2 separate regions of the Homo sapiens genome follow, and region 2 is reported to be linked to region 1. The links are microRNA targets in miRTarBase. Many come from high-throughput screens and were not tested one by one. Region 1 holds a microRNA gene; the other region holds the end of a gene's coding sequence.
Evidence for each region. The annotated mature microRNA hsa-miR-192-5p reads CUGACCUAUGAAUUGACAGCC and lies in region 1 at 4,442-4,462, shown strand. An mRNA with a match to its seed (bases 2 to 7 or 8) in the 3' UTR can be bound and repressed. Matches are read on the target gene's strand: a 7mer-m8 pairs with bases 2 to 8, a 7mer-A1 pairs with bases 2 to 7 and ends in A, and an 8mer does both.

Region 2: miRTarBase lists GAREM2 as a target of hsa-miR-192-5p. Seed matches in the 3' UTR shown: 7mer-m8 at 5,432-5,438.

The regions. Positions count from the first base shown.
Region 1 is chr11:64,888,433-64,895,664 of GRCh38, reverse strand. It overlaps MIR192 (microRNA 192), which reads left to right and starts at 4,419; the gene lies at 4,419-4,528. ATG2A (autophagy related 2A) reads left to right here. Exons shown (of 41, transcript NM_015104.3): 40 at 223-375; 41 at 456-1,119. The coding sequence ends at 692. MIR194-2HG (MIR194-2 host gene) reads left to right here and starts at 2,216. Exons shown (of 3, transcript NR_133640.1): 1 at 2,216-2,254; 2 at 2,839-3,075; 3 at 6,325-7,207. MIR194-2 (microRNA 194-2) reads left to right here and starts at 4,226; the gene lies at 4,226-4,310.
Region 2 is chr2:26,187,285-26,194,516 of GRCh38, reverse strand. GAREM2 (GRB2 associated regulator of MAPK1 subtype 2) reads right to left here. Exons shown (of 6, transcript NM_001168241.2): 6 at 4,854-7,232. The coding sequence ends at 6,260. It overlaps HADHA (hydroxyacyl-CoA dehydrogenase trifunctional multienzyme complex subunit alpha), which reads left to right. Exons shown (of 20, transcript NM_000182.5): 17 at 745-940; 18 at 2,093-2,207; 19 at 2,889-3,034; 20 at 3,122-3,882. The coding sequence ends at 3,267. Among named protein-coding and RNA genes, the nearest start is that of GAREM2, 18 kb to the right of the region's middle.

The DNA.
Region 1 (7,232 bases):
AGGAGTCCCACGTTCCTAGGTTCCCTCAGCAGAGTGGCAGGTGCCTAGGAAGGGGAGGAAGAGTGGGAGGAAGTGGGGAGTGAGGCTGAGCAGGACCCCCTAGGCCAGCACAGTGACAGGCAGGGAGGCTGAGGGCTGGTGGGGTCTCAGACTGTCCTGGGGGCCTGGGGCTGACGTGTGCCCCAGCCAGCTGTCCTCATCCAGTGCTCCCATGTCCCCCAGGCCACAGCTGAGACCGTGTATGACATCCTGTCCCCGGCAGCCCCCGTCTCCCGCTCCCTGCAGGATAAGCGCTCTGCGCGGAGGCTGCGCAGGGGCCAGCAGCCTGCCGACCTGCGGGAGGGTGTGGCCAAGGCCTACGACACAGTGCGAGAGGTGACCAGGCCCCCGCCCTGCCCCAGTCCCCCATGCCCATCTCCTCACACAGACCCCGCCCTGACCTCTGGCTTCCACAGGGCATCTTGGATACAGCTCAGACCATCTGTGACGTGGCATCGCGGGGCCATGAGCAGAAGGGGCTGACGGGCGCCGTGGGGGGCGTGATCCGCCAGCTGCCCCCGACTGTGGTGAAGCCGCTCATCCTGGCCACGGAGGCCACGTCCAGCCTGCTCGGGGGCATGCGCAACCAGATTGTCCCCGACGCCCACAAGGACCACGCCCTCAAGTGGCGCTCGGACAGTGCCCAAGACTGAGCCTGGGGTGCCCGGCACCCAGAGGGTGCTGCCCACCATGCTCCTGAGCCTCCCAAGAGCTGCAGCCCACGGGCCCGGCCCGGCCTGGCCCTTCAGGGGATGGCCACTGTGAAGGACGCCTTCCCAGCCTGCCCGTTGCCAATCTGCTGTGAGAGGGGGGCCTCCCTGCCTTGGGGCCTTAGCCCTGGCTCTGCACTTTTCCTCCGGGGAGAAAGGACACTGCCCCTCCCCCGACCTGGGCCCACACTGCTGCCTTCTCCCAGGACGGAGGCTTTTGGACCCTCGGACCCCATCCCACTCAGCCAAGTGTCTTTCTGTGTCTGGGGGGAGGAGGGGATGATATCCGTGTGGTTCGATGTATTATTTTTAAGCTCCGTGAGTGCGTGGGTCAGTGTCTGCATGAAGTGGAATAAACTGCCCACCGCCAGCCCCCCTCTCAGATCCTCTGTCCCTGTGAACCCTGGCCTCAGCCTTGACCTTGGCCCCGCCCCAGATCCCACCTCTGCACCCAGCACCTCCCATGTCACCACCAGGGGTCGCCATGCCTCCTGGCCTTGCCCAGCAGATCAGGGCACAGGGGGACCCAGAGGCACCCAGCCCTGCACGCCTTCCCCTGGCTCTGGGCTCTGCCTTGCCCCTCCCAGGAGGCTGCCACTCCAGCCCCACTCCTGATGTGGCAGGAGCTACGTGGGGCTGCCAGGGGAGGGAGGGATGGTCCTTGGAGCCCAGCTGACCCTGCCTGGTTGTCACTTGAGGCCACTCGGGGAAGGCTGAGCCTGAGGCATTCTAGATGTTGCTCTCACCATCCCTAGTGGGGGCTTTTGGGGTGGCCCAGGCCTTGGCCCCTTGGTTTCCACTCTGATCTGGGGTCCCAGCTCCAGCACTTGGAGGGGGGAGGGGTGCTGGAGCAGCGCTGCAGCCGGAATCCCAACCCTCACTGCACAAAGCTTTACACAGGACCAGGGAGCGCCCATTGCCCCCCACACATCTTGTTTCTTGTGAGCTGCTCCCATCGCGCTCCTCCCTGCCCTGCTTCCCAGTGGCGCTGCACAGAGGTGGGTGGGTCCATGGGGAAACCAAGGCTCGGGTTGGGAATCAGGGAACCCTCACCTTGCTAGGTTCCGCAGGCCTCTGGGGTTAGCAAAGGTCCCCCAGCCCTGCTCTGTGGCCCCTTCTGAGTGGGGGAGATCTGGGTACTGGGAACAGAGCAGAAGCTTTGTCCCGAGGGACCCTGGGGTCCTGGCTGCCCACGGACAGCTGGGGCAGCAGGCTGGTAAGAGACCAGGAGGGCGAGGCCCTGGAGGAGACAGGGCTGTGGAGACTCGGTGCTGATGCCACCCGGAGAGGCAGATGGGGCCCAGCCTGATGCTTCCTGGACCCGCCCCACCCTGCCCGGGCACAGTCCAGGGCTTCCTGCCCTTCGAACCGCACTTGTGATCAGTATTGACGGTGGTGGGATAATCATTAACCACCACCAGGGGCTGGGTCAACGGCTCAAAAGGCCCTGGGCCCAGGGTGTCCCCACTTCCTCCTTGTGCCCCGAAGGCCAGCCCGGCACTCAGGTAAGAGGCTTCCTGAGTGGTAGGACCCCTGCCGCCCTCCCTGTCCTAGGAGGCTCCTGAACCCAGGCACCTCTCTGAAGGGTGGCCAATCCTGAGGAAGAAAGGGACCTGGACAGCCATGGGGTGGCCGGGACGAGCCCCTTCCTCTCTGTGCCTTGGTTTCCACTGTGGGATAAGGGGGCCTTAGCATCAGCGCTCAGAGCTGTGGAGCCAGGATTCCTGATCGGGCGCTGTCTCTGCCAGGCCAGGGCACTTGGACACCACGCTGCAGGAGGCTGGTCTCGCCCAGGCCTCTGTGGGAAGGGCCGCCAGGCTGAGTGGAGGGCCAGCCACCAGCTACGGTGTCTTCCTTCGCAGGTCTGTCCCCCCAGGCAGAAGGATTCCAGCCCAGGGATCCCCCATCCCACCCTGACTGCATCCTGAGAAGGGGGGACGCCACTTCGGGAAGGTTGTTGGGGCAGCACAGGCCCTGGGGCCCTGCTCTGTGACCTTGGGCGGCCCCCTCTGTCTCTCTAGGCCTGTATGCACCACTGGCAAAGGGGGCAGGGCCCAAGTCTACTCTAAAAGCTCCCCTTTCTCTCCAGAAGCTTTGGAGTCTCCCAAAATGCCTGCTGGGTCTCTGCAGGACTGGCACCTGTCACCGGAACCTGTCTGGGAGGGACGAGAACACGCTTTGCAAGAGGAAGCTCTGCCTCACAGAGCCCTGGGCTCACTCAGGGACCCTGGCCAGCAGCTGCTTCCTCTCCCCACAGCGGAGAGAGACCCAAGGGTCCCAGGGCGGATGCTTCCCACCAGGCCAGCCCAGCGTGCAGGGTGGCCTCGTAAGTCCTGATTGACATATGGACAGTGGTTCAGAGAGGTTACGCTACTTGCTCAAGGTCACCCAGCTCCCAGGCCCCTGCTGTCTTCCAGGCCACTGAGGTCCTAAGCGTCCTTCCAGGCGAGCCACTGCTCACAGCCTGTTCCTCATGTTCTGCGGCAGGTTTGTGTATCTACATCTTTTCCAGTTCCCTGTCGTCCCCCTTCCTACACCTCGTCATCCACTATCCCTGTTTGTTTTCTCTGTTCCTTTCTAGTTCTCTACCTGCTCCTCTTATTTTTATTTGAGACAGGGTCTTTCTTTGTCACTGAGGCTGGAGTGCAGTGGCACAATCCCAGCTCACTGGAGCCTCGACCTCCCAGGCTCAAGTGATCCCCCGCCTCAGCCTCTTGAGTAGCTGGGACCACAGGCATGCATCACCACACCAGGCTAATTTTTTATTTTTTGTAGAGATGGGGTCTCACTGTGTTGCCCAGGCTGGTCTTGCACTCCTGGGCTCAAGAGATCCTCCCACCTTGGTCTCCCAAAGTGCTGGGATGCCAGGTGTGCACCGCCATCCTCGGCCTTACTCTTCTCTTCCTCTCTCAGCCCCTCTGCCTCACTATCCCTCTTTCTGTGCCCTCCCCCACACAGCCCCCCACACTTCTTCTTAGTCTCATCTTCAGCTTCCCATACGAGGCCATCCTCATGAAATCAGGCACTGGGAGGTCCCTGGGGACTGACAAGTGCCAGCTGTCCCTTGCTGTCTCTCTGCCCCATGGCTGCAGCAGGGAGGGTGGGCAAAGGGCAGAGGTGACAGTGGCCAAACCTGAAACTGAGGCCCAGCTCTGGTTGGGAAAGAAACAAGGAAACAAAATAACTTGGGGACAGAGGGCGTGGGGTCATCAGAGCGGGCAAAGGCTGCCCAGGAGTTGTAAATCCGAGCCGCTCCCGGCTTTATGAGGCCGATTTGGGGTTGAGCCTGGACTTTGCCCAGGAAGGAGTGCTGGCAGCACACGGGGCGCCAGGTGTGGGCCCCGGATGATAAGAAGCCTCGGTGAAAAGACCATGGACCTGGGGCCACGAAGACTGGGGAGCCCAGGTGAGTGGGCATGGGACACTCTCCAGAGCCCTGCCGAAGGCGGACGCCAGGCAGGGCCCCGGTCTCCAATTGGTTCCCGCCCCCTGTAACAGCAACTCCATGTGGAAGTGCCCACTGGTTCCAGTGGGGCTGCTGTTATCTGGGGCGAGGGCCAGTACCCACGAAGAAGGAGAGGCAGGTGCTGGCCAGCAGACCAGCCAGGACTACCGTGGCGACGCTCCCAGGCCAGATGGTGGCGGGTAGTGGAGGGCTGTCGGTGGGCTGCCGAGACCGAGTGCACAGGGCTCTGACCTATGAATTGACAGCCAGTGCTCTCGTCTCCCCTCTGGCTGCCAATTCCATAGGTCACAGGTATGTTCGCCTCAATGCCAGCCACCAGGACCTGCAGGGATAGGGGAGGGCCGGGGGTGTCCAGCAGTCAGCAGAGATCCTGCGACCCCAGTGCAGCACTCATGGTCCCACCTCCCTCTGTCTCATTCCCCGTGAATGAGCCTGAACAGCTTCAGTCCTGCCCCTGCCCTGCCTGCCCTGTGGCACCTCTATGCTTTGCCCATGCTGTTCCCTTGGGCTGCAATACTCTTCCTAGCTTATTTGCCAGGCTCACTCTTACTAACCCTTTCAAGCTCTGTCCAAGCATTTGCTGCCTCCAGAAGGCCTTATTGAAGCTTCTAAGTCCCCACCTGGGCACCCCCACACAGTGCTGCCGCAGAGCACTGCCCTCTCGGAGCCCCGGTGCTGGTTTCTGCTTATGTCTCGCTCCTCTCCCCATCTGTGAGCTCAGTTCCCAGCCCAGGCGCGTGCCCAATAAATGTTTGCTGAACCAATCCTGAGCCTCTGTCTTGCACCCTGAGGAAGCACCCACCGACATGCAGTGTGGCCAAGGGGGGCTGAGTGCTCTAGGCCCAGTGTTTGTGCTGGAGCCCCCCCACCCAGGATGGGGCCCTGAGCCAGCCTCCCCATCTGCTTCCTACTCTCCCCTCCTTTGCCAGTCTCATCTCCCTGGAGCACAGCCCTGTGGTTGGTGGAGCAGCTTCTCCAGCCCCTAGGATTCCTAAGAGGGCCCAGGACCCCAGCTGCTGGTAGAGGAAGAGCAGCCAACCCAGGACAGGACAGCTGACCCCACCCCTGTCCCGCCTCCCACAACAGCCTCATTTCCACCTATTTCTTTGTGGTGTTTGTTTGTTTGTTTTGAGACAGAGTCTTGCTCTGTTGCCCAGGCTGGAATGCAACAGGCTTCCTCCCAGGAGGAAGCCTCCCCTCCTGGCATGATCTCAGCTCACTGCAACCTCTGCCTCCTGGGTTCAAGCGATTCTCCTGCCTCAGCCTCCCAAATAGCTGAGATTACAGGCATGCACCACCATGCCCAGCTAATTTTTGTGTTTTTAGTAGAGACTGGGTTTCACCATGTTGGCCAGGCTGGTCTCGAACTCCTGACCTCAGATAATCTGCCCACCTCGGCCTCCCAGAGTGCCGGGATTATAGGTGTGAGCCACCGCGCCCAGCCCCACCTGTTTCTTATACAACGGGGTTCTGAGGAAATTTTCCTTTTTTTTTTTTTTTTTTTTTGAGACAGGGTCTTGCTCGCTTTGTCACCCAGGCTGGAGCGCAGTGGTACAATCACAGCTTGCTGCAGCCTCCACCTGCCAGGGCTCACACAGTCCTCCCATCTCAGCCTCCCAAATAGCTGTGACTACAGGCACGTGCCACCATGCCTGGTTAATTTTTGTATTTTTCGTAGAGATGGGGTTTCACCATGTTGCCCAGGCTGGTCTCAAATTCCTGGCCTCAAGCAGTCCTGCCTCAGCCCCCCAAACTGCTGGGATTACAGGCATGAGCCACTGTGCCCTGTCAGAATTTTTCATTTGAATAAAAAGGTTTCTGGTACTACAAAATAAAATTTGTAAAATGGGAAATAGAGACCTAGGAATAAATGTCAAATTGCTTAATAACAGGCGTTGGCTATTGAGCCCTTTCTGTCTGCTGGGCACGCACATCCAGGACCTGGTCCTCCTGGCATCCATCATGAACCTGTTTGGGACAGGAGGACACAGGCTCAGAGAGGGTGCACATTTGCTGAAGTCACAGAGCAAGTTGGACCTTCTCCTGGGGACTGTAGGCAGCCAACAAACATCTGGCCCCTAAGACACTGTCTCTCTCCCCTTCCCACAGGCAGCTCTGCTCACACTGTCCTGGCTGCTCTGAATCCCTGGGCCCCGATTGGCCCCTGCCGTGGCCCAGCTCAGCAACCCCTCCCTGCAGACCATCCCATGACTCTGCAGGCGCTGCTCCCCTCTCTGCCCACACCCCGGCTTCGTGGGCCTCTCCCGCCACCCTTATCTCATTCCCTACAGAGTTAAGGAGCCCTGTGTGCTTATCTAATCCTGTGCTAGTTTCAGACTCCTTGAGGGCAAGGTCCATGACTTACTCATCCTCCCTGGCTGCTTCCCCCACCCACCAGCATAGTAGGTGTTCAGGATACATGGGCTGGATGGTAGGGCCCTGGACTCTAACCCTCTTGGGGCTGTCAGGCCTCAGACTCAGAGCACTGGCATAGGGTGAAAGGGGAGCAGACAGCAGCCACCCTGCCCTGGGGGTCCTCCTGCATCTGCCTCTGCAGAGCACTGCGATCCCACAAAGGCCTGCGAGGGCTATTGGAGACCTGTTCCAATGCATGAGCAAGGCGGATCCAGCACCCTCCCCCAGCTCCTTGAGCCCACTGACCTGTGTCCTTTACCCAGCAGGCCCTGGGCCCATGCACATTTCCCTGGCCTGGGTCTCACCTCCAACCCCTCTCAGAACTCCTCAAGACCTGCCCAAGGGTCACTCCCTCGCGGACACCTGCCTGGCCCCCCGCCCCGCCCCCCATTACCCCACTCACTGGCTCCCTGGATGCTCTGTGGCTGGGATGTTAGCGCCCCCATCATGCCCCATCACCCACACCGGGCTATTTCCCCCACCAGCCTGAAAGCCCCCAGGAGTGGCGGCCACTGACTTTTTTCCTGTAGCCTCAGACTCAAAGGAGGCACTTAATAAATGCACACAGAAGGACTGACCTTGTGCATGAGCAAAGTTGCTTA
Region 2 (7,232 bases), not on the chromosome of region 1:
TAAAACTCATGATGTCAAGATAAGGACCAAGCTTCCTTCTGATACACCAACTCCTGCTCTTGTCTAGGAAGGTCCCTGGTGCCCTCTCTCTGCACAGCAGTCGGAAGTTGGGCTTATACTGCACTGAAAGGGGCAGAGCTTTCCCTCTGCCCCACAGCCTCCTCACTGTTCCAGCAAGCTAAAGGCACCCCACCCCCCAGCATGTCTTCTATGCTGTTTCTGCACCTCTCTGAGGCAGGGACCATCCAGAACAGGGCCCGCTTGGTTCAACTGGTGCTGCATCTGTTTCCACAGCACACAGACCTCTCCAGTAGCCATCGAGGTCATTCTGGCAGGAAAGGAGAGGGATCCTCCTCGCTGGGCACTTACCCAGACTTGGGGATCACAGGGCTCTGAGTGCTCCTCTTTGATGATGTTTCTTCTGTTGGTCATGACACACTCAGCCGTCTGTCATGCAATCTCCTTATTATTGAGATTCAGAAATGCAAACAAGAAGAAAATGAAGAATTTAGTCATCTCTAAACGTCCTTAAAGTGCTGTAGATTAGAGAAGGCTCAGACTTTCCACTTGTGGCCCCAAACTTCTTTGTGCTTCCCTGAATGAAATAGCACCAGTCCTGGGCCTGGTCAGGTGACACTCAGAAGTGGGTTTTACACAAGGCAGTGTTTGGAGCCAGTACAGGGAGCCCTTTGGGGGGATTTGGGCTGCCCTTCCCCTGAGGTCCCTGCATCGCTTCCTGTTCAGGAAGGAGTTGACCCGAAGAAGCTGGATTCCCTGACCACAAGCTTTGGCTTTCCTGTGGGTGCCGCCACACTGGTGGATGAAGTTGGTGTGGATGTAGCGAAACATGTGGCGGAAGATCTGGGCAAAGTCTTTGGGGAGCGGTTTGGAGGTGGAAACCCAGAACTGCTGACACAGATGGTGTCCAAGGGCTTCCTAGGTGAGTAGCCTCAAGGAAACATAACTAGCACCATTAGTTACAAAGTTCTAAGCAGTTCCTGAGACCAAAGAGTTACAGAAGCCCTCGTGGAAGAAAGTTTTCTAAACACAGAGCCCTTATCACTGGCGATTTCAAAAATGATTTTATGAGTCAGGTGCGGTAGCAACCACTTATGGTCTTAGCTGCTTAGGAGGCTGAGGTGGGAGGATCGCTTGAGCCCAGAAGTGTGAGGCCAGCCTGGGCAACATGGCGAGGCCCCTTCTCAAAAAAAAAAAAAAAAAAAGATGTCATGTGAACCTTCTAAGGGCTAGGACTATAGATTATGGACAAAAGGCAGAGTTCTACCCTTCTGGGGCTCTAGCATCACCTGGTCCAAGTTATGCCAGATGGACAAGCATTTTTATCCCCCAGAGATGAAATCTGCAATAGTGCAGAAGCAAGCTCTGCATCCGGGCTTTACCATGCTGTCTGGCCACCTGTGAGGAGAATGTATAAGCTCACCATACACAGTATACAGTTGAGGCCCACAGAGAAGTGACTTTCTGTCTTGGCAAAACAGCAAAATCAGCATTACAACCTGGGTGTTCTAGGACCCGGTGCTGCATATGGGGATGTTAAAACTCACCCAGGTGGCCTTTCTCATCCATGTACACAGATGCCCAAGCTCCGGGTCACAAGATCTTCTTTCCTTCTCTGCCCACTCTTCTGACAAAGACTAATTTGCTAGGGTTAGCTAGACATACAAATTCAGGAATTCAGAAGAGGCCAGAGCTTTATAATAGACCAACAGAGACAAGAATTCTCAGGTCAGGGTCTTTTTTGTTTGTTTTTTGTTTTTTTTTGAGACAGAGTCTCACACTGTTGCCCAGGCTGGAGTGCAGTGGCATAATCTCGTCTCCACCTCCCGGGTTCAAGCGATCCTCCTGCTTCGCCCAGCTAATTTTTGTATTTTTAGTAGAGATGGGGTTTCACCATGTTGGCCAGGCTGGTCTCAAACTCCTGACCTCAAATGATCCTCCGCCTCGGCCTCCCAAAGTGCTGGGATTACAGGCGTGAGCCACCACGCCTGGCCAGGCCAGGGTTCTGAGAACAAATAGTAACACTCCCTCCCTGAGAACAAATAGTAACACTCCCTTTTCTTGCCTGTTTTAGGTCGTAAATCTGGGAAGGGCTTTTACATCTATCAGGAGGGTGTGAAGAGGAAGGATTTGAATTCTGACATGGATAGTATTTTAGCGAGTCTGAAGCTGCCTCCTAAGTCTGAAGTGTAAGTCCGTTTGAGTGGCTAATGCCTGGAAATTGACTTTCTCTGACAGCCCAAAGCTTCCCAGCCCCTCTTCCATTTTTTTTTTTTTTTAATACTTTAAGTCCTGGGATACATGTGCAGGTTTGTTACATAGGTATACACGTGCCATGGTGCTGTCTTCCATTTTCTTTGTGACCACCATACCTGAACAGGAGGACCACTCCTGATGCTGGCATGGTGCTTTCCAAGTGGAAGGCCCTCGCACGTGCTCCTTGGTCTCTGCCCAGCATCTAGGTGAGAACCAGGCCACGTCTGGTGAAGGCCCTCCCCTGCTCCAGCCTTCTCTGGCAAGTTCCCAGAGAGCCGCTGGAAGGACAGATTCTCCTTGGCCCCTTCACCCTCCCAGATCTTTATTATCATTTGTGAGCAGCTGACTGTTGCTGATGTCAAAGAGATACTGATTATCTTCTCGGCACCAGGCCCTGTTCTAGGTGCTCAGTTTCATGTTAATTAGGGCAAGTTACTCTCCACTTTTTCCATGGGAAAGTTTGGTTCACCCAGGCAGCATCTTCTCTGAGGGCCAGCACCAACCGGCCCACAGAGCTCCCCATGCACCCATCCCGACTTCCATTCTGCATCTGCGGCTCTGGCTTTCCTCCCCTTTTCCTCTTCTTCTACCTAAACATCTCTTTCTGTTGGCAGCTCATCAGACGAAGACATCCAGTTCCGCCTGGTGACAAGATTTGTGAATGAGGCAGTCATGTGCCTGCAAGAGGGGATCTTGGCCACACCTGCAGAGGGAGACATCGGAGCCGTCTTTGGGCTTGGCTTCCCGCCTTGTCTGGGAGGTTGGTCTCGCAGGTTGGGAAGGAAGCTCACTTTAGCCTGGAGCCCGTGTTGCGTCTCCTTCAACGAAGTCCTCTTTCTCTATTCAGGGCCTTTCCGCTTTGTGGATCTGTATGGCGCCCAGAAGATAGTGGACCGGCTCAAGAAATATGAAGCTGCCTATGGAAAACAGTTCACCCCATGCCAGCTGCTAGCTGACCATGCTAACAGCCCTAACAAGAAGTTCTACCAGTGAGCAGGCCTCATGCCTCGCTCAGTCAGTGCACTAACCCCAGCTGCCGGCAGTGCTGGTTCTCCAACAGAGTGGTGTCTAGATTTATCAGAGTAACGAGAAGACAAACTCCGGCACTGGGTTTGCTCCCTGATTAAAGTGCCTTCAGCCAAGACCATCTCTCCCTCCTGGTGAAGTGTGACTTCGAATTAGTTTGCACTTCCTGTTGGAAGGTAGAGCCCACTGCTCATTGTATAAGCCCCGAGGCCTAGAGTGGCAGCCAAGAGCCATCTGAAGCCACCTCTCTGCCTGTTCCTCCCAAGAGGCCAGGGTGGCCAGGGGTGGTGAGGGCAGTTCTGCACCCAGCCAAACACATAACAATAAAAACCAAACTCTGTGTCAGCATCTTTGCCCTTCTGGTTTAAACGCCTCCTTCAAAAAGCAATCTGGAAGAAAGCCCTGTGCTTTGGGGGAGTAAGAATGTGTGTGCAGAATTCTAGGCAGCACCTTAGGGAGGGACTGGGATGAGAGAAAGTGGGACCTGGTGGGCTCAACCACACACACCTGTCTGTGCAGATGCTTTGCCCAGGCTTCTCACCACGGTGTACCGGGATATTAAACCTCTTTCCCCAGCCTGGATTTCCTCATTGTGTGATCTTACCCATTTCTTTTCTGGGTGTGCCTCATTCATAGGTGCTTCTTGGGATGGTTGTGGGAACGTTGGTGCTAAGCAGAGGCGCTGACATCTCCCTTGATGTTCGGAGATCCTGCATAGCAGGGCTGCCCCAGAAATGCCTGTGCGGTAATCAGGCAGCACGGGAGCAGCATGAGGAGTGCTGACCCCCACAGCACCTGCACTCCCCCAAAGCTTCAGCCCCTCCCCACCCCACCCCCTGGGATGGAAAGTTCCTACAGAAGCAGTGCCCAGTCTGGGTAAACAGCACTGGGGCTAACTGGGTCTGGCAGAAGGATCCACGCTGAGTGTGTGCGGAATCGTAATTCCAGTCCCATCACATTCTGCATTCTAAATTGTCAGATATTACCAGTTACTCCTGCCTCTGCTCCAGTTGTACTTCAAATATGTCCCTGGTCCCAGCTCTGTAGCTGGGACTGGCAGGCAAGGAGATCAGGTCTGGCTCTGCTTGGTCACTAGGAAGCCAGACTCTAAAACCAAGTCACCTCTGAGTTGAGGTTTTCAGATGACCAGAGTAGGGAGCTGATCCCTTGCACCAAAGCCATTAACCGGTTTCCAAATTTGGTCTGAGAGAGCCTGAAGCCGGCATTCTGCCAATGCAGGAAGCTAAGCTTGGGCCCTGGCTGGTGGCATTCAGCTTTGAGCCTGGGTCTTTCCCTTCAGTAACACCAGGTAGGTGTGAATTATGTTGAAACTAGTGGAAGCTGGGGTGGGGGTTCTTGAAGGGTAGGGAGGGGCTGGCGAGGGCCCTGCAGAAGGGAATGAAGGCTGCCACCAGCCGCCTCCACAGACATGGGAATGGCCACACACCCACATCATTCCTCCATCAGTCCTCTCCTGCCAGAAGGCATATACACTGTGCCCATGGGTCCCCATGGCCTTGTTTTCAAAAGAAGAAAGCAGCTGGCACCCAGAATGCCACTTGTACTCATCTTCAGCAGTCTAGCATTTATTTCATTAGTCCTTGAGGATTCATTAAATGATCTGCAAGAAAACCAAATGTCCCCACATCACAGGTTCTGTGCTCTACTCTCTGACCACTTCTCTGAGCTGAGGCAGCCTGCTTGGAGTATGGGCACCAGCATGGCTTAGCTACTTTTAAGATAAAAAGTGGAGGAAATAAATAGGTAGACTAGGTAAGGCAGAAGAGAAGGCTGGCACTTTGGGCCCTGACACTAGTGGGCACCCTGTGGTTCTGGGTGAGATGGAGGACACGGATGGGGTGGGGTGTGTGGTTGGACACAATGACCAGAGCTCTGGGTACCAAGCAGATCCCCATGTTTGAGATTCAAGGGCACAAAGGCCTGCTGTGAGGCACGTGAACAAATGCAGGACTGAGCTCCAGGAACGCACTCTCCCAACTGTACCCTCCTGTGCCAGTGACAGAAAACCAGGGAAAAACACCAAGTATTGTCAGAGACAAATGATGGGGGCAAGAGATTGGCGGAATTGGAGGTGGTTGACTACCGCTTGCTTCTAGAATCAAGGAGAAGCTGACCTAAATCAACCTGCTCTTCCACGGAATCAGTATTCTGAGACTGAACGCCACCTGACGGATGGATGACTAGCTGCAGTAAAGTCAGAGCAGAAGCCAGGGTGCTAGAGTCATCTGGGCAGTGTCTGGCTTCCTAACTAGATAAGTGGGTCGGGTCAATTGCAGAGCTGTGCTCTTCCAAAGTTGTCACCCATGAACCAGGACCCACAGGTGGAGCCTCTGAGGTGCCATGGGTTAGGCTTGTACACGACTCACCTGTGTGCGGGGCCAGGCCCCACCCCCCTCAACCACGGTGGAGCAGAGGGGGAAGGGAAAGGCATCTCACAGACACAGACATCTACACCCTCACTCTGGGGCAGCTTTAGGCCAAAAGCCAACAGAGCACAAAGGAGAGTGGGCACTTGGGAAATCGGTGCTTAAATTACCAGCCATCTTCTTGTCTCTAAACAGAGCCTACAGGCTTCAGCAGTGGAAGTCGTTTGTGAAGGTCTATAGCAGGGCATGAGGTGGTGTTAGGTCACCCTGAAGGCCAGCTTTTGACCCCGTTGTGGGAATCACGGCAAATGCCTTACTGGGCCCAGGTACACAGTGGTGCCCCCAGCCCCTTCCCCATGTACTCTGCACACTCAAAGGCAAGATGTCCCGTGCAGGGGTCTGACCCCAGAGGACCACATTTCCACATGCATCTCCCCTGGATCCACCCAGTGGCTGCTGAGCAGCCTCAGTCTCGACATAGATCCTTCTTGCAGGCAGCACCTGCTCCTCCGGAGTGCTGTACCTGGGGCCCCCATACCAGCATTCCAGCTGTGCAGCTCCAGCTGGGCAGTTCAGATCTTGGGCCTCCAGCCTTTGATGAACTGCATGATCTTCTTGACCTGCAGCTTGGTGAGGTGGAAGTCATCTGCCAGGATGTCCTCACTGAGCTGCACAAAGATGCTACCATCGATGCGTTCTCGGGCAAAGAAGCTCACCACATCCTCTGAGAGCCCGATGAAACGCAGACTGCGAGAGACCTCCTCCAGGGAGAGTGCAGACAGGTCAGCAGGGGGCTGCCAGGAGGAGGCATCTCGGACTCCAAAGCCTGTGGCTCCATCCCGGGGACTGGCAGGAGGCCCTTCCAGGCGCCCTTGGGTTAGAAAAAGTGCTCCTCCCGCCTCGGGTCCCTGCAGAGCAGCTGGTGACAGTGGGGTGGGGACCTGGTGCAGCACCAAACCTTCAGGCTCAAAGGCCTTGGAGGGGCCAAGTGGTGAAAGGCGGGGTCCAGGCCCAGGTGTCCCCACTGCTCTGGGCTCCTGAGAACGCAGCAGCTCAGGCTCTGGAGAACTGCCCTGCCCCAGCTCAAAGGGATCGAAGGGCTCCAGGACTGGTTCCTGCCATTCAGAAGAAGAGGAGGAGGAGGGGGCGCAGGAGGAGGGGGGAGCAGCTGAATAGGCCTGGCCTGGCGAGGCTGGGCCTGGGGAATACGCAGGGCCAGAGGTAGCCACAGGACCCGAGGTGGTTCTGGGCCCAGAAGACAAGGCCGCTGAAGGGCCTGAGGGGTAGGCAGGCCCGGAAAAAGGGTTGAGAGCTCCAAACGGAGCAAAGCGCTTCTGGGGATGTGAGGGCTTGAATAGAGGAGGGCAGCTGTGGTAGGTCTTAACAGGGGTGTCAGCCCCCAGAAGGGAGGCGGCTCGACCGCTCAGAGGCTCTGTGAGGGCCCGGGAGGCCTGGCTGGGCTGTGTGGTTGAGGGTAGGGGACCGGGGGCTGGGCGGCTAGAGGACTCGCCCACCTTGCAGTCTCCCCAGGTGCATGGGTAGCAA